4 separate regions of the Homo sapiens genome follow, and all the other regions are linked to region 4. Evidence: fine-mapped QTL for protein levels in blood plasma. A gene starts in region 4. Each other region holds a variant in brackets. All regions are shown on one strand. Distances are between the middles of the regions.

The links. A credible set is the group of variants that fine-mapping cannot tell apart. PIP is the chance, under the fine-mapping model, that this variant and not a neighbour inherited with it causes the effect. The UK Biobank Pharma Proteomics Project read protein levels with antibody pairs (Olink). The fine-mapping took linkage between variants from a reference panel, not from the people measured, so its PIPs are less certain.
Region 1: its variant is the best candidate, but not a certain one, in a credible set for the plasma level of the MPO protein (UK Biobank, PIP 0.75).
Region 2: its variant is the best candidate, but not a certain one, in a credible set for the plasma level of the MPO protein (UK Biobank, PIP 0.90).
Region 3: its variant is the best candidate, but not a certain one, in a credible set for the plasma level of the MPO protein (UK Biobank, PIP 0.73).

Annotation. Positions count from the first base shown.
Region 1 is chr17:58,711,968-58,720,067 of GRCh38, reverse strand. The region is part of intron 5 of RAD51C (RAD51 paralog C); the gene reads right to left. Among named protein-coding and RNA genes, the nearest start is that of RAD51C, 23 kb to the right of the region's middle. The variant C/T (reference allele first, on the strand shown) is at 3,667.
Region 2 is chr17:59,583,660-59,591,763 of GRCh38, reverse strand. It overlaps DHX40 (DEAH-box helicase 40), which reads right to left. Exons shown (of 18, transcript NM_024612.5): 11 at 5,531-5,611; 12 at 3,711-3,868. Among named protein-coding and RNA genes, the nearest start is that of DHX40, 22 kb to the right of the region's middle. The variant G/A (reference allele first, on the strand shown) is at 4,755.
Region 3 is chr17:58,664,251-58,672,354 of GRCh38, reverse strand. All of the region lies in intron 1 of TEX14 (testis expressed 14, intercellular bridge forming factor), which reads left to right. All of the region lies in intron 1 of IGBP1C (IGBP1 family member C), which reads left to right. It also overlaps the pseudogene RNU1-108P. Among named protein-coding and RNA genes, the nearest start is that of IGBP1C, 24 kb to the left of the region's middle. RefSeq lists an enhancer at 2,970-3,019. The variant C/T (reference allele first, on the strand shown) is at 3,130.
Region 4 is chr17:58,277,037-58,285,135 of GRCh38, reverse strand. MPO (myeloperoxidase) reads left to right here and starts at 4,201. Exons shown (of 12, transcript NM_000250.2): 1 at 4,201-4,531; 2 at 4,677-4,770; 3 at 5,122-5,297; 4 at 5,490-5,613; 5 at 5,710-5,839; 6 at 5,922-6,128; 7 at 6,991-7,309. The coding sequence starts at 4,378. RefSeq lists enhancers at 90-346, 259-874, 3,251-3,268, 5,853-6,542, 7,674-8,099 and promoters at 2,921-3,121, 3,167-3,392, 3,277-3,678, 4,071-4,211, 3,617-4,211.

The DNA.
Region 1 (8,100 bases), 430 kb before region 4:
TTCTGATAAAAAATTTTAAATCCCAGCACTTTGGGAGGCCAAGACGGGCGAATCACGAGGTCAGGAGATCGAGACCATCCTGGCTAACAGGGTGAGCGGATCACGAGGTCAGGAGATCGAGACCATCCTGGCTAACACGGTGAAACCCTGTCTCTACTAAAAATATAAAAAATCAGCTGGGCGTGGTGGCGGGCGCCTGTAGTCCCAGTTGCTCAGGAGGCTGAGACAGGAGAATGGCGTGAACCCGGGGAGCAGAGCCTGCAGTGAGCTGAGATAGCGCTACTGCACTCCAGCCTGGGCAACAGAGTGAGACTCCATCTCAAAAAAAAAAAAAAAAATTAAAAATCCACCCATAAAAAGATGTAGTTACCTGAAAATATGATTCTACTGATCATAAAGTATTTTATTTTCATACTTTAGAGATGGGGTCTTGCTATGTTGCCCAGGTGGTCCTTGAAGTCCTAGACTCACATGATCCTCCCACCTCAGCCTCTTGAACAGCTGGGACTAGAGGTGTTTGCCACATCTAGCTCATAAAACTTTTTTTTTAAGAGACAGGGTCTTGCTATGTTGCCCAGGCTGATCTTGAACTCCTGGGCTCACACAATCCTCCTGCCTCAGCCTCCCAAAATGCTGGGATTACAGGCATAAGCCACTGTACCTGACCTACAAAAAACTTTTTAAAAAATTAGCTGGGCATGGTGGTGCACAACTGTAGTCCCAGCTACTCAGGAGGCTGAGGCAGGAGAATTGGTTGAGCCCAGGAGGTTGAAGCAGCAGTGAGCCATGATTCTGTCACCGTACCCCAGCCTGATGACCAAGCAAGACCTTGTCTCAAAAAAGAAAGACTGAGTCTCGCTCTGTTGCCCAGGCTGGAGTGCAATGGCGCGATCTCGGCTCACTGCAATCTCCGCCTCCCGGGTTCAAGCTATTCTCCTGCCTCAGCCTCCCAAGTAGCTAGGATTACAGGTGCCTGCCACCATGCCTGGCTAATTTTTTGCATTTTTAGTAAAGATGGGGTTTTACCATGTTGGCCGGCCTGGTCTCGAACTCCTGACCTCAAGTGATCCACCCACCTCGGCCTCCCAAAGGGCCGGGATTATAAGCATGTGTCACTGTGCCTGGCCTGAGTCCATGTTCTTTATCACTATTGCCTCCCTAGAATATTTTTATTGAAAGGAATATGAAATCCTTAACAAATACCTCAATGTTTATACTTTTAAGAAGGAAGCAAATATAGTATTACTGTTTATAATTTTATAGGAAAAAAAGAAACTGAGGCAACAAATTATGAGAAGAGACTTAAAACTCATAAAGAAGGTACAATATAAGTAGATGAACTAGGAAAAAAAAAATCCTAGTAGTCAGGTCAAATGACTCCAAATTATGATTATGCTACTCAGCTATTAACAGCCACAGGTGTTGCTTTGCAACTCACAGATGGCCCTCAAGGTTTCATATTGCTAATTCTCTTTGTATAAATACTGACCTACAAAAAAGGTTCCAGGTTTTGAAAGACAGTAATTTTAAATAAAGCAGGGAAAACAAAAGCGTTTAAGGCTGACTTAACACAGAAGTCAGATCTGTTATCTTTCCATCCCCAAATCTCCAGAAATGGTTACTTTATATACTCTTCTAATACATATCTTCCCTCCAGAAAAAAAGAGTTAATATTGCAAACTAAAACTGATAATGAAATTCCATGAAAAGCAGTAAGAAAAAGGTGTCTACTCTGAAAATGAGTTTTTTATGTAAGAAAACCGAGAAACAGCCCAGGCGCGGTGGCTCATGCCTATAATCCCAGCACTTTGGGAGGCCGAGGCAGGTAGATCACCTGAGGTCAGGAGTTCGAGACCAGCCAGGCCAACATGGCGATACCCCATCTCTACCAAAATTACAAAAAATTAGCCGAACGTTGGGGCGGGCACCTGTAACCCCAGCTACTCGGGAGGCTGAGACAGGAGAATCACTGAAATCCAGGAGGCAGAGGTTGCAGTGAGCCAATATTGCACCATTGCGCTCCAGCCTGGGCAACAGGAGCAAGACTCCAACTCAAAAAAAAAGAAAAAGAAAACTGCGAAAGAAAAAAGGTTGTTTGGCTGTTCCCACTGCAGTGGTAACACCCTAAAATTTCTGTTTCACCGCAAAGGAGAAATCTGTGATCCATCTAGATCTCAATTAGATACCAAGTGGATGACATGATTTTCTTCTAGCTCCCCTCCCCTTACATGCCACAGGGCATTCTCCATTTGTTACCTCTCATCGGGCACCTTAGAAAAAGCTAAGCAGGAATTTAAATTGGCAGCTTTTCTTTCTTTTTCTTTTTTTCTTTGAGACAAGGTCTCACTCTGTTGCTCAGGCTGGAGTGCAATGGCATGATCTTGGCTCACTGCAACCTCCGCCTCCTGAGTTCAAGCGATTCCCCTGCCTCAGCCTCATGAGTAGCTGGGATTACAGGTGTGAGCTACCATGCCTGGTTAAGCTTGTATTTTTGGTAAAGACGGGGTTTCTCCATGTTGGTCAGGCTGGTCTCGAACTCCTGACCTCAGGTGATCTCCACCTCGGCCTCCCAAAGTGCTAGGATTACAGGCATGAGCCACCACACCCGGCCGGCAGCTTTTCTTAAGAATAGTTTTTAGAAATGGGGTCTCACTCTGTCACCCAGGCTGGGGGGCAATGACACAATCATAGCTTACTGCAGCCTTGAAGTTGTGGACTCAAACAATCTTCCTGCCTTAGCTTCCCCAGTAGCTAGAACTATAGTTCAAGCACAAGTTCTACTAGCTAGAACTATAGGCATGCCTAACTAATTTTTAAATTATTTGTAGAAACAGGGTTTTGCTATGTTGCCCAGATTAACTTCGAACTCCTGGCCTCAAGTGATCCTCCCACCTTGGCCTCCCAAAGTGCTGGGATTATAGGCATGAGCCACTGTGCCTGGCCCAGGTGTAGCTTTTAAAAGTTAAATTAGCCAGGTGCGGTGGCTCACGACTGTAATCCCAGCACTTTGGGAGGCCGAGGCGGGCGGATCACGAGGTCAGAGCGAGACCATCCTGGGTAACACGGTGAAACCCCGTCTCTACTAAAAATACACAAAAAATTAGCCGGGCGTGGTGGTGTGTGCCTGTAGTCCCAGCTACTCAGGAGGCTGAGGCAGGAGAATGGTGTGAACCCAGGAGGCAGAGGCAGGAGAATGGTGAACCCGGGAGGCAGAGCTTGCAGTGAGCCAAGATCGCGCCACTGCACTCCAGCCTGGGTGACAGAGCGAGACTCCGTCTTAAAAAAAAAAAAAAAAGTTACATTAGAAGCCAGGCGTGGTGGCTTGTGCCGGTAATCCCAGTACTTTGGGAGGCAGAGGTGGGAGGATCACAAGGTCAGGATATCAAAGCCATCCTGGCTAACATGGTGAAACCCTGTCTCGACTAAAAATACAAAAAAATAGCTGGGCATGGTGGCATGCGCCTGTAGTCCCAGCTACTAGGGAGGCTGAGGGAGGAGAATGGCGTGAACCCGGGAGGAGGAGGTTGCAGTGAGCCAAGATCGCGCCACTGCACTCCAGCCTGGGCGACAGAGTGAGACTCCATCTCAAAAAAAATAAATAAAAAAGTTAAATTAAAATCATAAATTCAGTAGCTCAGTAGTATTAGCTATATTTCAAGTGCTGAA[C/T]AGTCATGCAGCTACTGTACTAGACTGTACATTTTCATCTTTCCATCAGATCTACTGGACAGTGCTGGTTTAGAGAGAGTACTTAGTTTACGCACTACGTATCTTTAGGAAAATATAAATCAAACTACTGATTTACCAGGTATTCAACATGCCAAAATTAGAATTTCCATTATTAGCAAATATTTATATAGCAATTATATTACTTTTGCAAAACGATTGGCCTCCATGATACAACTGAAAATTAGTATGTGATTATGCCAAGCTTCTAAAGAATAAGTGCTTTTTTTTTTTTTTTTCGAGACAGAGTCTTGCTCTGTTGCTCAGGCTGGAGTGCAGTGGCATGACCTCGGCTCACTGCAACCTCTGCCTCCTGGGTTCAAGAGAGTTTCCTGCCTCAGCCTCCCAAGTAGCTAGGATTACAGGTGTCCCCCACCACGCTTGGCTAAATTTTGTATTTTTAGTAAAGACAGAGTTTCACCATGTTGGCCAGGCTGGTCTCGAACTCCTGACCTCAGGTGATCCACCCAGCTTGGCCTCCCAAAGTGCTGGGATTACAGGCGTGAGCCACCATGCCAGGTCAAAAGTTTAAAACAGTAAAGTAACAATCACTTGAAATTATGAACTTCAGAGCTTTAAAAATATTTCTGCCATGCAATGTCCTTCAACCAATGAACAGATAAACAAAATGTGATATATCCATAAAATGCAAAATTAGTCATTAAAAAGATACTGATGGGTGCTAAAATACAGATAAACCTTGAAAACATCACGCTAAGTGAAAGAAGTCAGACATAAAAGGCCATATACTGTATGATCTGCTTATATAAAATGTCCAGAAAAGACAAATTCACAGAAACAGAAAGCATACTAGTGGTTGTGAGGGACTGGGGGAGGGTAGAATAGAGAATGACAGCTAATGAAAAGGGTTTTTTTTTTTTTTTTTTTTTGAGACAGAGTTTCGCTCTTGTTGCCCAGGCTGGAGTGCAATGGCGCGGTCCTGGCTTGCTGCAACCTCCGCCTCCTGGGTTCAAGCAATTCTCCTGCCTCAGCCTCCTGAGTAGCTGGGATTACAGGCACCTGCCACCACAACTGGCTAATTTTTTTGTATTTTTAGTAGAGATGGGGTTTCACCATGTTGGCCAGGCTGGTTGTGAACTCCTGACCTCAGGTGATCCACCCACCTTGGCCTCCCAAAGTGCTGGAATTACAGGGGTGAGCTATTGCACCCAGCTGAAAAGAGGTTTTTTGTTTTTTTTTGTTTTTTTTTTTTTAATAATCTGGAACTGTGTGTTTCCCAGAACCAGAATTACTTTCTCCATAGGGTACAAAGTTATAGTTGACCGCAAGAAAAATTTGCATGAGATTTGAAACGTGACACTGAAGGAGCAGACATTTTAAATATTCTGAAATTCACTGTGAGGTTGGGGTTTCTTTTTTAGGATGACGGAAATATTCTAAAATTATACAGTGGTGATGTTTGCAAAACTCTGTGGATACACTGAAAATCACTGAATTGTGCACACTGCAAGGATGAATCATATATGTCATTAAGGCTGTTTAAAAAATTATGCCAATAATCCAAAAAACATATTTTTAAAGGACTTTCTCCATATCAATTTGGCAAAGATTTAAAAGACTGGTACCTAGCTGGGCGTGGTGGCTCACGCGTATAATCCCAGCACTTTGGGAGGCTGAGGCGGGTGGATCACGAGGTCAGGAGATCGAGACCATCCTGGCTAACACAGTGAAACCCATCTCTACTAAAAATATAAAAAATTAGCCGGGCATGGTGGCACGCGCCTGTAGTTCCAGCTACTCGGGAGGCTGAGGCAGGAGAATCTCTTGAACCCAGGAGGCACAGGTTGCAGTGAGCCAAGATCGCGCCATGGCACTCCAACCTGGGCGACAGAGCGAGACTCCGTCTCAAAGATATAAATAAATAAATAAAAGACTGGTACCCAAAGTTGGTAAAGATATGGGAAAACAAGAGTTCCCATTCATTGCTGTAGAGACATACTTTGGAGCATAGTTTCTGAGGGTAATTTTATAACATAAAACAAAATGTTCAAAAATCGATTCCTTTGGCTTAATATTTTCACTTTAAGAAATTTATTCTAGACTAGCTGTGGTGGCTCACACCTGTAATCCCAGCACTTTGGGAGGCCGAGGAGGGTCGATCACTTGAGGTCAGGAGTTTGAGACCAGCCTGGCCAACATGGTGAAACCCCATCTCTACTAAAAATACAAAAATTAGCCAGGTGTGGTGGTGCACGCCTGTAATCCCAGCTATTCGGGAGACTGTGGAATGAGAAGCTCTGGAACCTGGGAGGTGGAGGCTGCAGTGAGCCAAGAGTGTGACACTGTACTCCAACCTGGGTGAGAGAGGAAGACTCTATCTAAAACAGAAAAAAAAAAAAGAGAGAGACCATCAATAAGGAGGTGGTTAAAAAAACTACGCTACAGGGTGGGCACAGTGGCTCATGCCTATGGAAGGCTGAAGCAGATGGATCCCTTAAGCCCAGGAGTTCAAGAACAGCCTAGGCAACATAGTGAGACCTCATCTCTACAAAAAACTTATTTATTTATTTATTTTGGAGCTAGAGTCTCACTGTGTCTCCCAGGCTGGAGTGCAACAGTGTGATCTTGGCTCACTGCAACCTCCACCTCCCGAGTTCAAGTGATTCTCCTGCCTCAGCCTCCCAAGTAGCTAGGACTACAGGTGAGCACCAACACACCTGGCTAATTTTTGTATTATTAGTAGAGACAAGGTTTCACCATGTTGGCAAGGCTGGTCTTGAACTCCTGACCTCAAGTGATCTGCTTGCCCTGGCCTCCCACAGTGGTGGGTTATAGGTGTGAGCCACCGTGCCCAGCCTCTACAAAAAATTTAAAAATTGGCTGGGTGTGGTGGTGTGTGCCTGTGGTCTCAGTTACTCAAGAGGCTGAGGTGAAAGGATTGCTTAAGCCCAGGAGATTGAGGCTACAGTGAACCAAGATCATGCCACTGCACTCTAGCCTGGATGACAGAGCGAGACCCTGTCTCATAAAAAAGAAAACCCAAAAACAAATACAAATACAAAAAAAACCTATGCTACAGTCATACAGCAAAATACTATGCAGCTGTTAGTGTAAAGCAGACTTATAAGTAGTGTACATGGAAAAAAAAAGTAGTATACATGGAAAGATGTTCACAATATATTAAGTGAAAAACAGAAAACTGCTTTGCATAATAGCATGTATAATATGACCTCATTTTCATTTCTTTTTGTGTTTTTGAAGACAGGGTCTTGCTCTGCTGCCTAGGCTGGAGTGCAGTGGTGCGATCTCAGCTCACTGCAACCTTTGCCTCCCAGCCTCAAGCAATACTCCCACCTCAGCCGCTTAAGTAGCTAGAACTATAGGTGCATGCCACTATGCTTGGCTAAGATTTTTTTAAAAATTTGTAGCGATGAAGTCTCACTATATTTCCCAGGCTGGTCTCAAACTCATGGGCTCAAGTGATCCTCCCACCTTGGCCTCCCAAAGTGCTGGGATTACAGGCGTGAGCCACTGCGGTGGCATGACCTCATTTTCTTTTTTTTTTGAGACGGAGTCTTGCTCTGTCGCCCAGGCTGGAGTGCAGTGGCGTATCTCAGCTCACTGCAAGCTCCGCCTCCCGGGTTCATGCCATTCTCCTGCCTCAGCCTCCCGAGTAGCTGAAATTACAGGCGCCCGCCATCAAGCCTAGCTACTTTTTTGTATTTTTAGTAGAGATGGGGTTTCACCGTGTTAGCCAGGATGGTCTCGATCTCCTGACCTCGTGATCTGCCCGCCTTGGCCTCCCAAAGTGCTGGGATTACAGGCGTGAGCCACCACACCTGGCCTATGACCTCATTTTCTAAAACGTAAGTTTGTATATGCATGAAGTCTGCAAAAATATTTACACCAGACAACAATATTTACACAATCTCTGAGTAATGAATAATCGCTTCCTACATTTTTTATTGTTTAGAACTTTTTTTTTCTTTTACAAAAAGCATACATAACTTAAAATTTCTTTTTTTTTTTTTTTTTTTTTGAGATGGAGTGTTGCTCTCTCGCCCAGGATGGAGTGCAGTGGCGCAATCTTGGCTCACTGCAACCTCCGCCTTCTGGGTTCAAATGATTCCCCTGCCTCAGCCTCCTGAGTAGCTGGGATTACAGGCATGCCACCACGCCTGACTATTTTTTGTATTTTTAGTAGAGATGGGGTTTCACCATGTTGGTCAGGCTGGTCTCGAACTCCTGACCTCATGATCCGCCCACCTCAGTCTCCCAAAGTGCTGGCATTACAGATGTGAGCCGCCGTGCCCGGCCAATTATTCTTATTTTATGTATTTTTTTTTTTAGAGATGGGGTCAAGCTTTGTTGTTCAGGCTGGTCTCAAACTCCTGGCTTCAGGCGGTCCTCCCACTT
Region 2 (8,104 bases), 1.3 Mb before region 4:
ATTCTTAAATGATTCAGAAAAAGAAAAAAATCCATTTATATATACATATATAGAGGGAGACAGAGTAATAAAGCAAAGGGGGTAAAATGTTAAAAATTGCGGAAACTGCATAGAAGGTATAAAGGAATTCCTTTGCTATTCTTATTTGAAATTATATAAGAATAAATGTCACCCAAAAAAGGCTAACACCACACTGATTTTATCTATTTAAATATTCCAACATGGAAAAAACATTTTTCTTTTTCTAGCCTTAAAAGACTATTAGAGTTGGTCACCTTAATCCAACTTCTTGGTTTTACAAATGAAAAATGAAATCTAGAAAAACTAGGGCCATGGTCAGATAATTAGGTAGTAGTGGAGCTGGACAGAACCCTGCACTCTTAACTCCTACTTCAATACTCTGTAATAGGTTTTGAAATATTTTAGCTTGTTTATTTCTTTCTTTCTTTTTTCTTTTTGGGGATGGAGTCTCACTCTGTCACCCAGGCTGGAGTGCAGTGGCACGATCTCAGCTCACTGCAACCTCCGCCTCCTGGATTCAAGCAATTCTCCGCCTCAGCCTCCCCAGTAGCTGGCAACACAGGTGCACGCCACGCCTGGCTAATTTTTATATTTTTAGTAGAGACAGGGTTTCACCATGTCGGCCAGGCTGGTCTTAAACTCCTGACCTCAGGTGACCCACCTGCCTCAGCCTCCCAAAGTGCTGGGATTACAAGTGTGAGCCACCACACCTGGCCTATTTTTTAATTTCTTATCAGAGATGGGGTCTTGCTATGTTGCCCAGGCTGGCCCTGATCTCGTGGGCTCAAGCAATCATCCCACCTCAGTCTCCCAAGGAGCTGGGATACCACTGTGCCCACTGGTATTTTTAGCTCTGATACTGCCTCATGAAAACCAGTTAACATTACTTATTTTTATACAGCATTTTATTAGAACAAAAAATTGCAATTAGGGGTATTACCAGAATTAAAATTCTGACATTTCAGACTGCAACTGCTGGGTGCAATGGCTCAGGCCTGTAATACCAGCATTTTAAGAGGCCAAGGCTGGTGGGTCACTTGAGCTCAGGAGTTTGAGACCAGCCTGGGCAACAGAGTGAAACCCCATCTGTATAAAAATACAAAAAATTAGCCAGGCATAGTAGCAAGCATCTGTGGTCCCAGCTGCTGGGGAGGCTGAGGTATGGGAGGATCACTTGAGCCTGGAAGGCAGAGGTTGCAATGAGCCAAGATCACGCCACTGCATTCCAGCCTGGGCAACACAGTGAGACCTTGTCTCAATAAAATTTAAAAATTTTTTAAATTAAAAAAAAAAGACTGCAAACTATTTGAAACAGTATATTGATTAGAGTATTTTTATAGAAAAATGTATCCTCCATTATAATCATGGCAATAATAAATTAATCTGGACCCGACACTTCCAGCCTACAAAGGTATAAAGCCAGTGAGCTAACCCATTCTGTTGTCTGGCTGCAGACAAGGTATACTGTTCACTTGGAAGCTCCTTGAAAGAAAAAATTACTCCACTGCATGAAAACAAATCTAACATATGTCAAATTAAATTGTGTCCTATACTGACACACCAAGAAAAGAAAGAAGCAGAAGTTTAAAGACCTGGAAACTTCAAAAGAATTCTCTAAGGATGCAAGGGCTAAACTACCTTTTCTTTTGATCCTACAAAAAAAAAATTAGTAAATTACTAATGTACTATAAAAGCACTATCTTCCTTTACTAATGAAAGGAAATTAACGCCGGGCTGGGCGTGGTGGCTCATGCCTGCAATCCCAAGGCCAAGGTAGGCAGATCACCTGAGGTCAGGAGTTCCAGACCAGCCTGACCAACATGGTGAAACCCCATCTCTACTAAAAATACAAAAATTAGCCAGGCGTGGTGGCCCATGCCTGTAATCCCAGCTACCTGGGAGGCTGAGGCAGAAGAATCGCTTGAACCTGGGAGGAGGAGGTTGCAGTGAGTCCAGATCACACCATTGCACTCCAGCCTGGGCAACAAGAGTGAAACTCCATCTCAAAAACAACAACAACAAAACTTGTTTATCCTTAGTTTTCTGTCCTAGGGCTAAGGCACGGTAAACCCTCAGTAAATGCTCAATGAATTACTGGCAATCTAAATAAATGAAGAGATATTCCATGTACATGGATAGGAAGACAATACTGTCAAGATGTCATTTCTTCGCAACTTAATCTATCTTAATTAAAACATAATCCCAATTAAAATCCCAGCAAGGGCCGGGCGCGGTGGCTCACGCCTGTAATCCCAGCACTTTGGGAGGCTGAGGCGGGTGGATCACAAGGTCAGGAGATTGAGACCATCCTGGCTAACACAGTGAAACCCTGTCTCTACTAAAAATGCAAAAAATTAGCCGGGCGTTGTGGCGGGCGCCTGTAGTCCCAGCTACTCGGGAGGCTGAGGCGAGAGAACGGCACGAATCTGGGAGGCAGAGCTTGTAGTGAGCCGAGATCAGGCCACTGCACTCCAGCCCGGGTGACAGAGCAAGACTCCATCTCAAAAAAAAAAAAAAAAAAAAAAAATCCCAGCAAGTTCAGCAAGTTATTTTGTGGATTTCAACAGACTGGTTCTAAAGTTTATATGAAAAAGACCCAGAATGGCCTAAACAATTTTGAAGAGGAAGAACAAAACTTCAAGAGTTACTATAAAGCTCCAATAACCAGGACAGTGTGGTATTGGTGGAAGAACAAACAGACAATCAGATAAATGGAACAAGATACAGAGCCCAGAAACAGACCCATATAAGAATAGTCAGCTGATATTTAACAAAGAAGCGAAGGCATTTCAACAGAAAAAGGACAGTGTTTTGAACAAATGGTACCGCAACAACTGTACGTCCAAATACTAAAAGACAATAGAAGAGAAAATCTAGATGACTTTGGGTACGACAATGACTTTTTTAGATACAACAATAAAGACACAATCTATGAAAGAAATAATTGATAAGGTAGACTTCGTCAAAAATAAAAACTTCCGCTCTGCAAAAGTCAATGTCAAAACAATTAGAAGATAAACCACAGACTGGGAGAAAATATTTACAAAAGATCTATCTGTTAAATAACTATTTAAAATATGCAAAGACCTCTTAACAATAAGAAAACAACCCGGCTGGGCGTGCTGGCTCACGCCTGTAATCCCAGCACTTTGGGAGGCCAAGGCGGGCAGATGACCTGAGGTCAGGAGTTCGAGACCAGCCTGGCCAACATGGAGAAACCGCGCCTCTACTAAAAATACAGAATTAGCCAGGCGTGGTGGCACATGCCTATAATCCCAGCTAAAACCATATAACACAAAGAGTGATCCCTTTAGTTAATAATAATGTGTCAATATTGGCTCACCAATTGCAACTTATATGTCATACAAATCAAAGATGTTAATAGGAGAAATTGCTGTGGGAGGTTGAGGGGATGAATGTCAACCCTCTGTACTTCCTACTAAATTTTTCTGTAAACTTAAAAATGCTCTAAAAAATAAAGTCTATTAATTTTGTTTTTGGTTTTTTTTTTTTTTTTTTTTTTAGTAGAGATGGGGTTTTACCATGTTGGTAAGGCTGGTCTTCCAACTTCTGACCTCAAGCAATCCACCTGCCTTGCCCTCCCAAAGTGATGGGATTACAGGCGTGAGCCACCGTGCCCAGCCAAGTCTATTAGTTTTAAAAAACACAACTTAAAATAAACATCTTACCAGGTCTAATGAAGACGTTTTCCACAGACAACATTGCTGCTATTGGAAGTAGTAGATCTTCACAATCCAGGGAAGCAGCTTTTATTACTGCACATGTCAGATGTGGAGGCAAAGGAAACTCCACCATAGACAAACCCAATCTGGTGACATGGCCACTCCTTAATACAAAGAAAAAGTTTGTAAGTCTTTCTACACTAGGAGAGTACAAATGTAACATTCATCATTCAGAATAAATCAGATATAATTTACGTTACCTCCAATCACCTCCAGAAGTTCAATTCAATTTAAGAAAATTAGGCCAGGCGTGGTGGCTCATGCCTGTAATCCTAGCACTTTGGGAAGCTGAGGCAGGTGGATCACCTGAGGTCAGGAGTTCAAGACCTGCCTGGCCAACATGGCAAAACCCCGTTTCCACTAAAAACACAAAAATTAGCTGGGTGTGGTGGCATGCGCCTGTAGTCCCTGCTACTTGGGAGGCTGAGGCAGGAGAATCACTCAAACCCGGGAGGCAAAGGTTGCAAAGCTACTAAGGAGGCTGAGGGGGATTACACCTGTAATCCCAGCACTTTGGGAGGCCGAGGCAGGTAGATCACTTCAGGTCAGGAGTTTGAGACCAGCCTGACCAACATGGTGAAACCCTATCTCTACCAAAATATAAAAAAATTACCTGGGCATGGTGGTGCATGCCTATAATCCCAGCTACCTGGGAGGCTGAGGCAGGAGAATTGCTTGAACCTGGGAGGTGGAGATTGCAGTGAGGTGAGATTGCACCATTGTACTCCAGTCTGGGCAACAAGAGTAAAACTCCGTCTCAAAAAACAAAAAAAAAGAAGATGTCTTTGAAGACATGAGAGAATAATAATTTTATTTTTTCAATTTTACCGTTTTTTTTTTTTTGGAGACAGGGTCTTGCTCCGTCTCCCAGGCTGGAGTGCAATGGCGCAATCTCCTCAGCTCACTGCACCCCTCACCTCCGAAGCTCAGACGATCCTCCCACCTCAGCTTCCCAAGTAGCTGGGACTACTGGCATGTGCCAACACCATC[G/A]GCTAATTTTTGTATTTTCAGTAGAGATGGGTTTTACTATGTTTCTCAGGCTTGTCTCGAACAACTGGGCTCAAGCAATCTGCTCGCCTTGGCCTCCCAAAGTGCTGGAATTACAGGCGTGAGCCACCACGCACATCCAAGAGAATAATAATTATTAATATCAAACCTAACCACCCCATCACACAAACATGAAAACAAGGACTCTGGCTCTCTTATCATTTTTATGTATCCAGCATAATGCTTAGCACTGAAATGGTACTCAGAAATTACTTGTTAAATAATACCAATATTTATTAAACAAAAGGGATTATACCGTGCAGTTTCTTTCTCCTTTTTTTTTTTTTCAGATGGAGTTTCGCTCTGTTGCCCAGGCTGGAGTGCAGTGGCATGATCTTGGCTCACTGCAAGCTCTGCCTCCCAGGATCACACCATTCTCCTGCCTCAGCCTCCCGAGTAGCTGGGACTACAGGCGCCCACCACCACGCCCAGCTAATTTTGTTTTTGTATTTTTAGTAGAGACGGGGCTTCACCATGTTAGCCAGGATGGTCTCGATCTCCTGACCTCATGATCCACCGACCTCGGCCTCCCAAAGTGCTGGGATTACAGGTATGAGCCACAGCGCCCGGCTGGTTTTTCAATCAGAATTGTGATGAAAGACTAACAATCCATTCAATTTAAAGAAATTATTTTCTACTGTTAGAGAAAGGTATTTAGAGCCCTGTTTAAAAAGAGATCAATATCTGTTTTGATTGTGATTTTTTTTTTTTTTTTTTACCTGTCAATAGCATCACACTGGTAAAGTTGTTTAAGAGCTTCTAAAATAAGTCTCTCATTAGGTGGATCCAAATAGGGAAACCTGTGTGTTTAAATGAGATATGAAGTGAGAGGCATTCCTTGAACATGGTAGGATTTTATATAGACATGACGAAAATTTCTTTAAAAGGTTTTATTTCTATTTTTCAAGTCATCTTCTTTTTCTAAAAAAAAATTATATGATCATGATCAGCATTTGGCAAAAGAGGAAATAATTTTTTTCTGAATCACACTCCTCTACTTCAAGAAGTGATTCTTTTTGACTCCCCTTAGCTGAAATACTCTCACCAGTCTACTTATCCTAATCCTGCCCCACCCATCCTTCACAGCCTGTCAAGTCTACTCTTTTCTGCAGTCCATAATTTTTTTCCAAACTTTTATAAAAATAGTAGAGAAATATTAATAGTAGAGAAATATTAATTAGTACTGAAAATTATAAATTGTTCAATAGTACCTCAAAATGCTTTTTTTTGGAGATGGAGTCTCGCTCTGTTGCCCAGGCTGGAGTGCAATGGCACGATCTCTGATCACTGCAACCTCCATCTCCCAGGTTCAAGCAATTCTCCTGCCTCAGCCTCCCGAGTAGCTGGGACTACAGGCACATGCCACCACGCCTAGCTAATTTTTTGTATTTTAGTAGAGACAGGGTTTCACCATGTTGCCCAGGCTGGTCTTGAACTCCTGTGCTTAAGCAATCCGCCCGCCTCGGCCTCCCAAAGTGCTAGGATTACAGGCGTGAGCCACCGCACCCAGCCTCAAAATGCTTCTTAAATACAATTTAATTTTTTTTTTTTTTGAGACGGAGTCTCACTCTGCTGCCCAGGTTGGAGTGCAGTGTGGCAATCTCGGCTCACTACAACCTCCGTCTCCTGGGTTCAAGTGATTCTCCTGCCTCAGCCTGCTGAGTAGCTGGGATTACAGGCACCTGCCACCATGCCCAGATAATTTTTGTATTTTTAGTAGAGGCGGGGTTTCACCATATTGGTCAGGCTTGTCTCAAACTCCTGACCTCAGGTGATCCACCCACTTCAGCCTCCCAAAGTGCTGGGATTACGGGCGTAAGCCACCGCACCCGGCCGGACAAAATGCTTTCATATAAATGGGGAAATATATTCAATTAATTTAGCCATATTTGTGTCACATATGTGTACATGTGTATGTACTTATTTTCTGCCAAACTATCTCAGAATAAGTTGCAAATACAATGCCATTGCACACTTACAACTATCTCGGCATGCATCTCCTGAAAATAAGGACATTCTCTTACATCACCATAATGCGCTATTAATAAATATAATAAAATTAACAATTAACAATAATATTCAAAAGGGATAGCATCATCAAACATGAATATATATTTTTTAAAAACAGGAAAAATAATTACTTGATATCATCTGCACTGGGTTATTTTTTCCACCTTAAATCTGGATATGAAAAATCATCTACTCCAACTTCTCACCTTGAAAAAAATCCAATAGAAGACAAAAGGTCCAATACCTTATATAAAATGTCCATTCCAGGATTGATAACCCTATTTAAAAATAAATAAATAAAACAAGGCCAAGGATGGTAGCTCACGCCTATAATTTCAGCACTCTGGGAGGCTGAGGCAGGAGGACTGCTTGAGCTCAGGAGTTTGACAACAGCCTAGGCAACACAGCAAGATCCCATCTCTTATAAAAAGAAAAAATAATAAGCAAACAATAATCTCTTACACTGTTCTACTGCCAGCTTTCCTACAATTTGTACCAATAGGTCCTGGTAGCTTCTACAGCAAGAATTGGTAAACATTTTCCGTAAAGGGCCAGATAGTAAATAGCTTAGGCTTGCAGGCCATATGGTCTCTGTCACAATTACTCAACCATGCTATTACAGTGAAAGCAGCCACACATAAACAAATGGGTATGGCTGCATTCTAACATTTTATTTACAAAAACAGTCAGTGAGATTAGACCACAGTTTGCCACCCTTGTGCTAGAGCAATACCAAACCAGTCAGCTGCTTCTTCTATATAAAAGGAAAAACTACTTATTCTAAAATATTGCAATTAATTTCCCCCCTTGATTCCTCCAATTACCAATTCTGTCAACCACTCCTTATAAGTTACTTGGTTTCTAAGAGATCTACCATACCTAAGTACCATTCTCTAAAAACACTAGTATGTCAAACTCCTCATAAAACTTGATTATATCCAAAACTGAACTCCAAATGTTGAGTGACCAACACATAACAGGAACGCTGTAATTCCCCATCACCTAGTTTATTAATGTAACCAAAGTCTATGCCAGTGGAATTAAAAAAAAAATTTTTTTTTTTGAGACAGAGTCTTGCTCTGTCGCCCAGGCTGGAGTGCAGTGGTGCGATCTGGGCTCACTGCAAGCTCCGCCTCCCGGGTTCACGCCATTCTCCTGCCTCAGTCTCCCGAGTAGCTGGGACTACAGGCGTCTGCCACCACACCCAGCTAATTTTTTGTATTTTTAGTAGAGACGGGGTTTCACTGTGTTAGCCAGGATGATCTCCATCTCCTGACCTCGCA
Region 3 (8,104 bases), 390 kb before region 4:
TTCTCCAGCAGTGCTGGGGAAATGGGAGTAGAGGAGATGACTGTTGATTGGCTCTAGGACCAGTTAGAGCAGGGGATTCCAACCCCCTGGAAGGAGCATGGTACCAGTTGGTGGCCTGTTAGGAACTAGGCCGCACAGCAGGAGGTGATGTCATTACTGCCTGAGCACCTCCTCCTGTTAGATCAGCAGCCACATTAGATTCTCATAGGAGCGTGAAACCTATTGTGAACTGAGCATGCCAGGGATCTAGGTTGCACACTCCTTATGAGAACCTAACTAATGCCTGATGAGCTGAGGTGGAACAGTTTCATCCTGAAACCATTCCCACCCACCCCCTGTTATCCGTGGAGAAATGGAAAATTGTCTTCCATGAAACTGGTCCCTGGTGCCAAAAAGTTTGGGAGCCTCTAAGATAGAGGAAATACGCTGTGCTGCAGCATGAAGTAGGTGAGAGATGGGGCTAGGGGCCTAGTGAGTGAAATGGCGTGGAAAGTCTAAAGGATTAGATGAATTGAGGGATGAGCTTCTCTGGCAGTGAGTAGACCTGAGGTCCAGGGAAGGCTTTTGTAAGCTCAAAACATGTAAAATGGTGAGAAAATAGAACAAGAAAACGAGTTTTTAAAATATATTTCTGATCTAGCAAAAAGAGAAATCCACAGAGACCCAGAGAAAGAAACAAATCCAGAAAGGAAAGGCAGGGATGGACCCTGTCTATTTCCTAAGGACATTGGCCATCCTTAGAAGCTCTGGGGCTGGCTTTTAATGGACCACAGGCAGGAGACAAAGCTTGGGGCCTGAGCTGGGTGGGAGGTCTGACTAGAGAGTCCCTCCTCATTCTATAAAGCTGCGACCCCAGGAGAAGAACACTCTCAGTTCTGAGGAATGCCCCCTCCCCAAGAGAAAGATGTTAGAGATATGTGCTGGTCTCAGCCTCAGCCTGAGAATGGGAAGGGGCAGAGAAATCTTCACCACTATCTCACATTCACAGTCCCTCAAAATGGGCCAGAATTCATACTGCTATGTGTATATGTTAGGGGATGGCACAAAAAGTTACTTTAGCCTGGCTTGGTGATGTCCCCCAGCACCAGGCAGAAACAAAAGAAACCCTCTCTAGTCTATTCATTTCTCAAAATGAAACTACAATAATTGAAATAATAATCTTAGTGAATGGGTTAAGCAGCAGACACTGCCAAAGACAGAATTAGTGAAGACAGATCTGAAAAATTACCCAGGATGTAGCTCAAAGAAATATAGAGATGGGAAAATGCAAGAAAGTTTCAAAGAGATAGAGAATAGAATGAGAGGGTCAAGATAAATGCAATGAGAGTTCCAGAAGGTGGAGTGGAAGCAATATTTGGACATGTAATGGTAATCAGTGTCCCAATTGTATATATTTATTGTGTACACGTTGTTTTGAAGTATTATACATTGTGGAATGGCTACAGGGAGCTAATTAATATATGCATTACTGTATGTACTTCTATCATTTTATTGTGGTAAAGATGCTTAACATATGCTTTCAGGAATTTTCAAGAATATATTAAGTATAGTCACTTTTTTTTTTTTTTTTTTTTTTTTTTTTAAGAGGGAGTCTCACTCTGTCGCCCAGGCTGGAGTGTAGTGGCGCAATCTTGACTCACTGCAACCTCCACCTCCCGGGTTCAAGCAATTATCCTGCCTCAGCCTCTCAAGTAGCTGGGATTACAGGTGCCTGCCACCACACCCAGCTAATTTTTGTATTTTTAGTAGAGATGGGTTTCTCCATATTGGCCAGGCTGGTCTCAAACACCTGACCTCAAGTGATCTACCCACTTCAGCCTCCCAAAGTGCTGGGATTACAAGCGTGAGCCACGGCTCCTGGCTGAATTTAGTTTCTTGGTCCCTGATCCTTATTCTTACCTTCCCAAAGCTGTTTGTTGTTTTTTTTTTTAATCTTCCCAAAGTTTATTTAGGCTTCTCACACTCCTTTTCTATCACATTTCTTAGCTTTCTAATCATTACACACACACATCCTATAGATAGATGGATAGATAGGCAGAAATCTCCATGCCAGGTACTTTGCTAGCCTGAGACTCCAGCAGTGACAGATGAAAACTCTCAGGTCCTTCGACAGTCTGTAGTCTAGCCCAGGAAACTGACTGATAATCACACAGTGGAATAATGAATGGACTGAAGATAAAGACTAAAAGAGAAATTAAAGGACTCTTACTATGATAACAGAGGGAGCTCAGCGTGGGAAGAGAAGTTAGATTTGTCAGGAGAGGCAGGGTAAAAACATTTTAAGCAAGGGGAACTACACAGGCAAAGGCTCTGAGGCTGGAAAGAGGCTGCGGCTGTAGCTGTGGCTGCCACGGCGGTATGGTGGACAGTACAGGCAGGCTGGAAAAGCTATGGAGCCAGCCCATGCAGAGCCTCAAGGAGCGTGGGATGGAGTTGGTGCTTTATCCAGAGGGCAGTAAGGAGTATTGAAGGGCTTTGGGCAAGGGAGTAACATTAGATTAGAGCAGCACCAATGCTCCTTCCTGACATTTTGTTAACATGTATTCACATGAGGGTGCTTCTTGCTAAACCTCAATGAAGTCTCAAGCTGTTGCTGGCTTTTTTTTTTTTTTTTTTTTTTTGAGACGGAGTCTCTCTCTGTTGCCCAGTCTAGAGTGCAGTGGCGTGATCTCAGCTCCCTGCAACCTCTGCCTCCCAGGTTCAAGTGATTCACCTGCCTCAGCCTCCTGAGTAGCTGGGATTACAGGCATGCGCCACCACACCTGGCTAATTTTTGTATTTTTAGTAGACATGGGGTTTCACCATTTTGGTCAGGCTGGTTTCGAACTCCTGACCTCAAATGATCCACTTAACCTCGGCCTCCGAAAGTGTCAGGATTACAGGCGTGAGCCACCACGCCCAGCAGCTGGCTTGTTACATTCTTTAGCCATCGTCTGGTGACTTTCAGCAAATATGACAAACTCCTCTCCACACCCCCTCCTGTTTTTTTTTTTGTTTGTTTTTGAGACAGAGTGTCGCTCTTTCGCCCAGGCTGGAGTGCAGTGGCATGATCTCGGCTCACTGCAACCTCTGCCTCCTGGGTTCAAGCCATTCTTCTGCCTCAGCCTCCTGAGTAGCTGGAATTAGAGG[C/T]GTGTACCACCATACCTGGCTAATTTTTGTATTTTTAGTAGAGATGGGGTTTCACCATGTTGGCCAGGCTGGTCTTGAACTCCTGACCTCAGGTGATCTGCCCACCTCACCCTCCCAAAGTGCTGGGATTATAGGCATGAGCCACTGTGCCTGGCATTGTCTCCCCCTTTTTTACACAATACAGATGTATCCCTAATCCTCCATTCATACAGTGTTGATAATTGCCAGGTTCCATTTTTTATGCCTACCTAGAACAGTGGTTCTCAGCCTTTTTTTCTAATTTGATATATACCCGGAACAAATGACACTCACTTGCCAGAATGTCTCCACCCTACAGCTTCTCAAACTGTGTGATGTAATATATTGACCCCCCAGTCCTCAGGGCCTTTGGGTAGGATGTTAGGGTGGGTGACTAGAGCCCTTGGGCCAGTTACCTCGCATAGCAGTTCACCTAGGATGCCACATGCTTTCTGGGTGATCCAGATTATTTTCTGTAGATGTCACCCTTGTCTGTGTGTGCATAAAAATAAAAAAAAGAAGTCCTCTCTGGGGATGACTACATGGATTTTAATTCCTTCTCTACCACTTGGGCACATTTCAGCCTCCCTTGGCCTCAGTTTTCTCATATGCAAAATGGAGATATTGTGTACTCTGTAGAATTGTTGAGTGGATTAAATGAGTTAAGGTGTGTGAAGTTCTTCTCCCTGTGCTGGGAGCACCCTGAGCCTTCAGTGGGCATTGGCTAAGATGATTCAGTAGACAGTCATGACTGGACCCAGGCTCCAGTTACTTCCTCCACATTTGCAGGGGTTTATAGTTACTGCAGCTCCTCCAGGCACATCAGTAGAAGAGGCTTTGGTAGCTGGGAGAGGTGCACTTTTTTGCTGTAAGGATGACTTTGTTCAGGACCATCAGGATAGGTATAGAGACCGCTGCAATGGGGTCTTGTAGTGGAGGAGAAAGACTGGGCACAAGTCCAAAGTACAGCATGGGCAAATGGGAATTTGTAGCCAAGGAGCAGTGTGGAGGTCAGTGGTTAGAAAATTACCAAGAGGAAACATCAGGGGTAAGAGGAATTCTGGCTAAACTGATCTAACAGGATTCTTGCTGAAGACAGGCTGGGGTGATCAGATATCACCTGGGGGGTGGTGCAGGATGAGGAACCTGATCAGATTTGGAGAATTTGGGTTTCAGCTAAATTGACTTAGCAGGGTTCCTTTACTAAAACTGGATTTTACAAGAACATGCACAGACTGGCCTATGAGAAGGTTCAGAAGCCTGAATAAGGTTTGGCCAAGCAAACAAGAAAAGAATCTTTTTTTTTTTTTTTTTTTAGCCAGAGTCTCACTCTGTCGCCCAGGCTGGAGTGCGGTGGCATGATCACGGCTCATTGCCTCACTGCAACCTTCGCCTCCCGGGTTCAAGCAGTTCTCCTGCCTCAGCCTCCCAAGTAGCTGGGATTACAGGCACTTGCCACCATGCCCGGCTAATTTTTGTATTTTTAGTAGAGACAGGGTTTCACCATGTTGGCCAGGCTGGTCTCGAACTCCTGACCTCAAGTGATTCGCCCACCTCAGCCTCCCAAAGTGTTGGGATTACAGGCGTGAGCCACTGCACCCGGCCAGCAAAGAATCTTTGTCATGCCTCAGGTTCTTTATCCATGAAATGGGGATGATTCCATTTCCTACCTCAACGTTGTGAGGATTAACCATAAAGTCCAGATGCATGGTAAACAGTAGATGTTAGCTGTTAGTATTTCTTGGTTTGCTTTAGGGTTTTTATTGGGTTGCCTGACTCACATGTTATAATTATGCTTTAAGGTTTAAGCTGTTCGTTAATGTATTTGTTTTAGTCTTCACAAAAACTCCTCCAAGGACAGTAATGCAGGTTTTACAAACTGAGGAACAAGTTGAGGCCATAAGCTCATCGAAAGTCTTGCATTGTGAACGCTATATTGCAGTCCAGATCTTGGATTCCAAAACCCTCCACTCTGCAGTACAGCCTGCTAGCATGCCCTGTTCCCCTTCTTGGAATAAGAGGAAATGATGCCGGGGTGGTTCACAGCGTGGGTATCCCGTGACTAAAAGTTCATTCACGTCTGTTAGCTCAAGGAAACTCTCCATACAGGGAGATCCGAAGGCCTTAGGCTACGCCAAAAGTAGTGAGGTGGTGCGTTTTTGTCAGGAAAATGGCCTGACAGACGTCACTTGCATTGACGCGAGCAGGAGAAGGAACTGCTGGTTGGAAGCGGGCCGAGATGAGAACGCAGTTGCGCTCTCTGACCAGCCAGGCCTATGCATGACGTCACGCCGGGAGGTGGAGTATGTAGATTAAAGACTGCATTTTGGAAACGCGTTCCTTGGAAGGATTTGCACAACTCTGTTACCAACACCAAGATATAGTATAAAAAATCTGTTTATTTTGTTCACTATATGTGGATAAAGTCCAATTAGAGTCATTTCAGGAGTTACCCGCACTTGCAATGATGTGGGCGGCACCGGGGATTGCTGGGGTCACGCAAGTACCTCATAATTACCTGTCAGGAGAAATACTGTGATTATGGAGGTGGTTTTTCCCTGTGTGTGGCTTATTCGTTGCACTTTGTGCTGATCCCTACGATTTCCCCAAATGTGGGTAACTACAGTGTATAATTTGTGGTAGCGGGAGATTGCGTTCGCACTTGCTGCTGGTTGTGGTAGTTGAAATGCAAGTTTTGTTAGTTGTGTATTAGCTTTTGCTTTTTTTTTTTTTTTTTTTTTTTTTTTTTGCCGTGGAAGGTTTGTTTCACTTTGTTTATCTAGGCTGGAGTGCAGTGGCATCCGAATTCATGCGCTCAGCCTTCTTTGGTTGTTTTAGGTTTTGCCTTATTTATTTTTTTGGGACACAGTCTTGCTCTATTTTCCAGGCTGGAGTGCAGTGGAGCAATCTCGGCTCACCGCAGCCTCCACCTCCCGAGTTCGAGCTATTCTCGTGTCTCAGCTTCCCTAGAAACTGGGATTACATTACAGGCATGCACCACCATGCCTGGCTAATTTTTGCATTTTTAGTAGAGATGGCGTCTTACCATGTTGGCAAGGCTGGTCTCGAACTCTTGTCCTCAAGTGATCCACACCTTCAGCCTCCTAAAATGCTGGAATTACAGGCGTGAGCCATGGCACCCAATTTTTTTTTTTTTTTTTGAGACAGAGTCTCGCCGTCTCCCAGGCTGGAGTTGAGTGGCACAATCTCGGCTCACTGCAACCTCCGCCTCCTAGGTTGAAGCGATTCTCCTGCCTCAGCCTCCTGAGTAGAGCTGGGAATACAGGCACCCGCCACCACGCGTGGCTAGTTTTTTGTATTTTTAGTAGAGACGAGTTTTCACTACGTTGGTCAGGCCGGTCTTGAACTCCTGACCTCATGTGATCCACCCTCCTCGGCCTCCCAAAGTGCTGGGATTATAGGCGTGAGCCACCGCGCCCAGCCTTATTTTTTTTTTTCATTGTTTCTTTTGGTTCTTAAGAATGCTTTGGGGTTGCAGGGTTGTTACCGTTGCTTACTGTTTAAAGCTGTACCTTGCTATCATTTAATGCTTAGGAACTTTAGTGAGGTAAACGCAATGAGTTGTGGGTTTTTTTGTTTTTTGTTTTTTATGAGACAGAGTCTCACCCTGTTGCCTAGGCTGGAGTGCAGTGGCGCGATCTCGGCTCACTGCAACCTCCGCCTCCCAGGTTCAAGCAATTCTCATGCCTCAGCCTCAGAGTAGCTGGACTACAGCCACGCATGACCACAATAAGCTAACTGTATTTTTAGTAGAGGCAGGGTTTAGGCAAGTTGGTCAGGCTGATCTTCAACTGCTGGCCTCAAGCCATCCTGCCTCAGCCTCCCAAAGTGCTGGGATTTCAGGCATGAGTCATTGCACCCAGGCAAAACATGATAATAAAGTTAATTTCATGTGGGCCGGGCCTGATGACTCATGCTTGTAATCCCAGTACTTTGGGAGGCTGAGGCAGGAGGATGGCTTGAGACCAGGAGCTCAAGACCAGACTGGGCAGCATAGCGAGACCCTATCTCTATAAATATAAAATAATAAAAATAATAATATAGCTACTAAAAATGTTCAACTGAATATGTCGAATGTTGCCCACATCATATTCCACTGGACAAGCAGTGCTCTAACTTAATCTGTTTCCTTATTTTAAAGTTTCCAGAGAGCCTTGCTGTATTACTTCCACAAACTTACATGCCTGCTCTTCCTGGAATGCACTTCCCTGCCCTGCCCTTCTTCATCTACCTGGAAAACTTATACTTCAGCCCTTCCAAACTGCCTGGGATCCACTCAGTGCCACTGAACCCAGGGTGGCCTTATCTGTTACGTACCACAGGCACACTGCCTAGGGGCACTTCTTTTAAAAATCAGAAGAAAAAAATGAATTTTTAGGTGGAAGAAAATGTCATATATAATAATATATTCATCTTTTAATCAATGCAGTCATAAGATAGCATTTTTAACATATATTTTAATGGAAATGTATATATTTTATCAGAGGAGGCAGGCACACAAAGGCAAAAGTATGGGCCCTTCAAAATCGTAATGTGGCCCTGCTGAACTTTTTATAGGTCTGGCAAGTCTGTTTTCCCTACAGACTATGATCTTATTTATTGCAGGCAGACTCAGTCTCTGCATTATTCCTCTTAGTATCCCCAGTGGCTAGGCCAGCGGACTGGACCTTGAACATTTAAGTGGCTGTCAGTAAATGAGAAGTATGTGCTACATGTAAGTAATGACTTGAGAACAGGTGTTTTTCATCATTAGCAGCAAAGAAATTCAAGAATATGAATGGCAAAAATACTGGAGTAGACAATGTGGTCATCAGAAATGGAGTTCTCCCAGCATAGGAAAAAGGGTCTGTTAGTACCTGTGATATCAGAGCCATGAGGGGGCACAAATAATCATAGAGGCCTCAGAGCTGTGGTCAGCCTGGCATTCATGGATACC
Region 4 (8,099 bases):
ACAAGATCTATGGGCTGAGTAAAACTGGTTTGTCTAAGCAGCCGCTGCCTCTGCCATCTCCCCAGCTTCCATAGCCTTCTGGGGGTGCCTCTTTCTCTCCAACCACACACAGGAAATCAGGCTGAAATCCCAACTGAATTATTTCTTAAACAGCATTAAGAAACAACATGCTGTTTTGCAAGCAGTAGCAGAGAGGGCCCGTTATCCCACCAGCAGCTGGGCTTCACCCTGGGGGTGGGGATATTTGGGAACTCTAAGTGGGCAGAAGAGACGGCAGTGGGGTGTGAGTGTGTTGGAGGCGGGGAGCTCTCTCAAATGACTATAGTCTTGAGATGTAGCAGTCCCAGCAGTGCCCTCCAGAGCCTACCCCCAGGAAGGGGACTGGCGGGTAACTCACATGGGACAAAGCTTATTTGAAATCCCTCCCACTCCCTTGAGCTGCATTCCCCTGGTTACTCTGCATGCTGAGAAGAGCTTTGAGCCTCAAACACACCTGGCCCGACAAATAGGGCCTAGATGAGGGAACGACAGAGGTGCAGACAGGAGAGGCTGACCACCTTGGGATAACCTCAGGTGGGTCATTATTAATTGGTTGAAAACATGTCAAGTCATAGAACATCTCTAGCCCTGGCACACACATGTGCATCCCCAGACCCACCCCCGGGCCAAAGACAGGGGCTTTGGGGAATCCACATCTTGGGAGTGCTCTCACCTCTATGTGGGTGGAGCACTCAGGGAGTTTAAACGTCGTTCTTGGAGAAGTATTTTCAAACACTCCTGGCCTGATTGCTGCCTGTGAGGAAGCAGAGCAAGCCTCTTAACAGGTGAATCGCTGACATGCTGCCTGCCAGGTCTCTGTGTCTGGGCCTGCCTTTCCAGCGCACTGTCCACACTGCAACCAGAGCAGGTGAGCTCTCCAAAGTAACTTGGACCATGCACTTCCGCTTCACAGACCTCATGACTCCCTGGGGCTTCGGGACAATAATTTCTCAGTAGGTCTGCGAGAATGTTGCATCCTGGGCCTCTGCTTGGCCCACCAGCCTCACCCTGTCCACCCTCTCCCTGTGTTGGAACTGAGTGAAGCCGACAGTGTCATTCTCTGGGCCCAGAATGCTCTTCCTCTGTGTCTACTTGGTCAGCTTTGAGACATTCTTCAAGACAGTCTCCAGAATCAATTCCTCAAGAAAGCCTTCACTGACCTCCCCCAGTTGATCCAAGTGCTGCTCTTCGCTGCTCCCTAAGGTCCCTGCATTGGTTCTGGGGGTGCCATTTGTTTGCCTTTCTGCTCCCCTCTGTGAGCTCCTTGAGGATAAGGCTCATGCTTTGCTCAGTGGAGAATGCTCAATGCCCAGCGCAGCACCTGACAAGGGCTCAGTAAATACTTGTTGAAGGAATCATTGAATGACAAGGGCTCAGTAAATACTTGTTGAAGAAATCATTGAATGAAAGGTCAGGAACAGGTGTCCAGAGGCTACTGGGTAAAGAGCACTGGTTTGGAAGTCAGGAGACTGGGCATGGAGATTATTCTGAACTGTGTCACACTGCTGACCTTGGTCAAGTCGTTTCCTTCCCTGGGCTCCTTCTTTCTCAGCTCTACAATAAGGGGCTTGCATTAAATATCTCTCCCCTGTTGAGCCTTGACAATTCCCTTAAAAGAGCGAAAGGACACTCAAGCATACTCAAGGTTGACAAGGGTGACAGGGGACAGGTGCTCTCATGCATGGCTGATGGGAGGATGAGGTAAAATCTTCAGCAGGCCATTTGACTATCAATATTAAAAAGCCCTAAAACACGCATACCCAAATACGCAGGAATTTTACTTCTTGCCTAAGGAAATAATTGACGATGTGGCGAGAGATTTAACTCCATGGATGCTTATCCTAGTACTACTTATAATAATGAAAATCAGAAACAACTCTAAGTATCTAATGAGATAGAATTAGTTAATAAATCATATAAAATAGTTATATGAAATATTATACAGACATAAAAATGAAGTAAACCTGTATTTATTGACACAGGGAGATGCTCAGACTAAAATTGTTAAGTACCGAAAGTAGATGGTAAAACAATATTTAAAGTTCTTCTTATCAATATTTAAAAATATATATTATGTTTACATATAGGATATCAAATTCTTAAATGAGGTATTGGTGAGTGGTGGGATTATGGGCAATTATTTTCCTTCCTATTGTTTATTTATGTGAAGACAATGATAAACCTTGAAAGAAAAAAGTACCCACAATCTCACTTGATGATGAGTAATTTTGATTTATTTTTATTTTTGCATACTCGTGTTCTCAAACTTTTCATCAGTGAAAATTATATTACTTAAAGGATTGAAAAATCATTTCCAAAAGCCTCTAAAATTCTAGAGCTTGATTCACAAAGAGCCACTCGACCAACTTCACACACAGCAAGTCACTGGCAGGGCAAAAGCTTGGTTCCCCTTCTCAGCAGGGGACAGAATCCCTGGACACACTGGGAAGATATTCTGGGTGTTGCTGTCCCTTGTCCCTTGGCCAAGAGGTGGTCTGGGCATAGAAGACAAGAGTGGGCCGGGCGCGGTGGCTCACGCCTGTAATCCCAACAGTGGGTGGATCAGGAGGAGGTCAGGAGTTTGAGACCAGCCTGGCCAACATGTTGAAACCCCATCTCTACTAAAAATACAAAATATTAGCCGGGCATGGTGGCGGGCGCCTGTAATCCCAGCTACTTGGGAGGCTGAGGCAGGAGAATTGCTTGAACCCAGGAGGCAGAGGTTGCAGTGAGCCGAGATTGCACCACTGTACTCCAGCTCCGCCAACAGTGAGAGACCCTGTCTCAAAAAAAAAAAAAAAAAAAAAGAGTGGGTGGCGGGAAGGTGGCTGAAGGTAGGAGGGGGAACCTAAATGGGACATGGGAGGCATGGTTGGCACGAGCTCAGCCTGACCAGGGCCCAGAGAGGTAGACTGATTCAGTCAAAAGTCGTAGTACTTTTCCTGCTGAGATTGGTGGCCCTTTTGCTGGGCTTTCTCAAGCAAGAAATATCCTCTTCTGTTTCAGAATTATTCTGAATCATTAACCCAAGTCCTCCCAACTGCACTGATCCTGTCCCAGAGAGGCCCTGGGCTGCATCACCTAACTGATCACTAACCACAACCAGTTCTGCTCTCTCCTGGTTCCTGAAATCCAGGAGCAGATGGTGGTGGGGAGGAGGAGTTTGGAGACAGCCCTCTACCAGAAGCCAAGAAGAAAGGGGAGTGAGGAGGGATAGAGGAAGTTATCTTGGTCCTGCGCCCACAGTCCCCAGGGTCCTCCTTCCTGTGAAGCCCAACGGTCTCCAGCCAGATTTCCTGTCCCCTTAGCCCCACCAAGAACCAGAGGCTGCCCATTGGGTGGCTGTTGGATGCAGGTTACTGTTGGAGTGGGGGATGGCCACCTGAGGCCAATTGGGTCATCTTTACTCCAGGTCTCCCTTTCATCCTCCTGTCTTCCCTGGGGGCACTCTATTCCCTGCAATTCCTTGGGCTACCAGTTCCTGACTTTTGTTCCTTTCAAAGGAACCCTGGATAACCAGTGTAACCAGAATTTCAGAGGGGTTAGTTGTGTGTATCCCCTGGGGACAAGCACTGGTATAGGCACACAATGGTGAGCTGAGAAATCTTGGGCTGGTAGTGCTAAATTCAAAGGCTGGGGACAGGCTGGGGCCAGTGGCTCATGCCTGTAATCCCAGCACTTTGGGAGGCTGAGGCGGGTGGATCACTTGAGGTCAGGAGTTCAAGACCAGCCTGGCCAACATGGTGAAACCCTGTATCTACTAAAAATACAAAAATTAGCTTCTTGCCTAAGGAAAAATACAAAAATTACTTCTTGCCTAAGGAAATAATTGATGATGTGGCTAGAGGCTAGGGCGTGGTGGCGGGCACCTGTAATCCCAGCTACTCGGGAGGCTGAGGCAGAAGAATCGCTTGAACCATTGCACATCAGCCTGGGCAACAGAGCAAGATAACGTCTCAAAAAAAAAAAAAAAAAAGGCTGGGGACAATGCTGGCCCCTCCTTTCCTGCCCCTTCCCCCCATTTCAGGGGCCCCTCTGTGTGTACCTTCCAACCCCAGTGGGGGAGGAGAAAGAGTTCAGTCTCCAGGATCAGACCTTCCTCTACCTCACCCCACCCCCAGCTTAGAGGACATAAAAGCGCAGATTGAGCTAAGAGGAGCTGACAATATCAGGTGAGCTGTGGAGGTGGGGTCCTTGGAAGCTGGATGACAGCAGCTGGCAAGGGGATAAGAGAGCAGTGAGCCCCTCCCTCAAGGAGGTCTGGCTTTATCCATAGACAGGGCCCTCTGAGGTGGGGCTGAGGTACAAAGGGGGATTGAGCAGCCCAGGAGAAGAGAGATGGGGGTTCCCTTCTTCTCTTCTCTCAGATGCATGGTGGACTTAGGACCTTGCTGGGCTGGGGGTCTCACTGCAGAGATGAAGCTGCTTCTGGCCCTAGCAGGGCTCCTGGCCATTCTGGCCACGCCCCAGCCCTCTGAAGGTGCTGCTCCAGGTAACAGTTCCCAAGGTGGGAGAAGATGGTGTGTTGGGGTGGTTGTGTTCCAGAGACCCCTTTTCTCAGAGCAGGCCTTCCTAGCTCTGGGGCCTGATAGGGGGTTGGGGCCCATTCCTGACTTTGTGATCCCTGCTCTGGGCAGCTGTCCTGGGGGAGGTGGACACCTCGTTGGTGCTGAGCTCCATGGAGGAGGCCAAGCAGCTGGTGGACAAGGCCTACAAGGAGCGGCGGGAAAGGTGGGGCACGAGGCACTGCCCAGCTCTGGGCAAGGATGTCCCAGGCCTTTCAGAGAAGCAGCAGGCAGCAGGGAGCTTGAAGGTGGGAGAGGGGGACTATGGGGACCCATGTGGACTCCCTTTCTGTCTGTCTGTCCCTGTGTTTCTGGATGGGAGAACAGCTTAAAAGCCATCCTTCCCAAAGCCTTGCCTCTGTCTGGACACCCAGGTCCATATCCTTTTTATAAAAGGAAGCCTTCCTCCCACCCGTGGGCCTGCCTGCATGGTCCTGCATGTCTGCCCCTGGGCTGGGGCTCTGCTGGGTGGGTCTGTATCCCTTCTCTGGCCCTCACTCCTCCTTTCTCCAAGCAGCATCAAGCAGCGGCTTCGCAGCGGCTCAGCCAGCCCCATGGAACTCCTATCCTACTTCAAGCAGCCGGTGGCAGCCACCAGGACGGCGGTGAGGGCCGCTGACTACCTGCACGTGGCTCTAGACCTGCTGGAGAGGAAGCTGCGGTCCCTGTGGCGAAGGCCATTCAATGTCACTGGTACTGTTGCCCATCACACCCCAGGTCCCTGCTCCACTAGTGACTCCTCCTAGGGACCCCAGCCGTCTCTCAGTGATCCCCTCAACTTCTTCCTCCAGGGAGTCTCAGGAGTCTCCAGGGCTCCTCAGCCTCAGGTTGCCTGGGATAGGAAGTGAGGCGGCTCAGCTCCCCCATTGTTCTTTCCCCCGGCAGATGTGCTGACGCCCGCCCAGCTGAATGTGTTGTCCAAGTCAAGCGGCTGCGCCTACCAGGACGTGGGGGTGACTTGCCCGGAGCAGGACAAATACCGCACCATCACCGGGATGTGCAACAACAGGTGCGGCTGGCTGGGGGTGGCTGCAGGAACCGGGCTCAGAGAGGCGTCCCGGACGCCACAAGCCTCCCGGTGTCAGCGCCCTGTCCTCCCCTGCAGACGCAGCCCCACGCTGGGGGCCTCCAACCGTGCCTTTGTGCGCTGGCTGCCGGCGGAGTATGAGGACGGCTTCTCTCTTCCCTACGGCTGGACGCCCGGGGTCAAGCGCAACGGCTTCCCGGTGGCTCTGGTGAGCGCCGGCGGGCAGAGGGGGCGAGGCCCGGCCACGCGGTGCGCGGACCCAGGCGCCAGCTGATCTCCGTGTCCCGCAGGCTCGCGCGGTCTCCAACGAGATCGTGCGCTTCCCCACTGATCAGCTGACTCCGGACCAGGAGCGCTCACTCATGTTCATGCAATGGGGCCAGCTGTTGGACCACGACCTCGACTTCACCCCTGAGCCGGCCGCCCGGGCCTCCTTCGTCACTGGCGTCAACTGCGAGACCAGCTGCGTTCAGCAGCCGCCCTGCTTCCCGCTCAAGGTGGCCCTGCTTCCCGCCCACTGCCTGGGTTGGGAGAGGGGAGATTGTTTCTGGAAGGGGCCATCTCCCTTCTGTGCCCAGGTTTCCTTTCCCAGACGCTGAGGAAGGCTGGCCCTGCCTCCCTTGTGTCCACAGCACTGGCTGCTCAGCTATGACCTGTCTCCTTCCTGCGCCTGGGCTCAGCCAGCTGGCAGCCAGGGCCGTCCATTTGCTCACTGCCTCTGGCAGGCCAAGGGAGAGAGGGTTGTTCCTCCTTGGCTGACAGGAGTCCTGTTGGTGGAATCACTGGCTCTTTGTTAGGTTGGGAGAGGGTTCTGGGAGGAGACCTTCTCAGTGCCCCCCAAGCCTCCATGCTCAGTCCTGTTTCCGCCCCACTGAGAGGGCAGCCCCAACCCCCATCACACAGAAAGAGAGAGCCTGGGGGTCTGGTGGGTGCCGTGGGACAGGGCTGGGAGTGGGCAGGGTGGTCGAGGCACTGCTGAGTAGGGAAGGAGGAGGAGAGAAAGGAGAGAGCGCCTGAGAGAGGGAGAGACAGACAGGAGAATGTCAGGGCCAGAGGGAGAGCAGGCACAGCAGAGAGAAGGGGAGAGAGACGGGCGACGCTTTAGTGAGGAGGGATCCGAGGCCTGGCGGTGCCCAGACCCAGGGGTTGCCCAGGTTCCCAGTTCAGTGTTCTGCTCATTAACCCTGCACCTCAGAGGCTGTTGCTGATGGCGCCCTAGGCAGCGATCCCTTTCGGGCCTCCGGAGGCCTCTCTGCAGGTTGAGGGTACCAGAGGTCCTGAGGGCAGGGGGAGATCCAGTTCTGCCTGGGCACCTTCCTTGCCCTCGGTGAGCCAGTCTAGCCTCTCTCTGTGCCTCAGATCCCGCCCAATGACCCCCGCATCAAGAACCAAGCCGACTGCATCCCGTTCTTCCGCTCCTGCCCGGCTTGCCCCGGGAGCAACATCACCATCCGCAACCAGATCAACGCGCTCACTTCCTTCGTGGACGCCAGCATGGTGTACGGCAGCGAGGAGCCCCTGGCCAGGAACCTGCGCAACATGTCCAACCAGCTGGGGCTGCTGGCCGTCAACCAGCGCTTCCAAGACAACGGCCGGGCCCTGCTGCCCTTTGACAACCTGCACGATGACCCCTGTCTCCTCACCAACCGCTCAGCGCGCATCCCCTGCTTCCTGGCAGGTCAGCTTTGGGGTGGGGACCAGAGGTGGCATAGGAGATGTTCCCTGTTGGAGCCACAGTGAGTCTGTTTGTGAGCAGCTTGTGGGTTTGTACTTAGAGAGACTGTCCTCACCAGCCATTACTATCAACTTCATGATATTAATCCAGTTGCCTTGGTAACAAGTCAGATGGAGCCAGAAAAGCAGAAAAGCAAACAACCTCTCCAACCCTAAGATGGAGACCCAGGCATGGCTGAGGAGCCTCTGTCCATCAGTCCATTGCTTTCTCTGTCCCTTTTTTCCCTTCTGGACTCTGGAAGACAAGAGAGTCAAATCCCTCAGGGGCAGGGAACTAAAGGACAGAGAACGCTGTGGTGCCCTCACCCTCTAGAGCGACACTATCCAATGTGGTAGCCACTAGCTGCATGTGGCTATTTTAATTTTAGTTATTTTAAATTAAATAAACCCAGTTTCTCAGCGGTGCTAACCACATTTCAAATGCTCAATTGCCTTACAGTCTAGTGGCTCCCCCTATTGGGTGGCACAGATGTAAAATATTTTCATCATCTCGGAAGGTTGAGTTGGACCACACTGCTCCAAAATATCCCCTCCTGCGCATCTTAATTACCCATAATAAGAGATGATGGGATTTTAAATGTAAACAATTGGCAGTTTTGGAGACACAATTGGGGCAGTGATGGCAGCCATGACCAGACATTTTCCAGTGTTTTTTTTTTTTCTAAGACGGAATCTCACTCTGTCACCCAGGCTTGAGTACAGTGGCACAGTCTCGGCTCACTGCAACCTCTGCC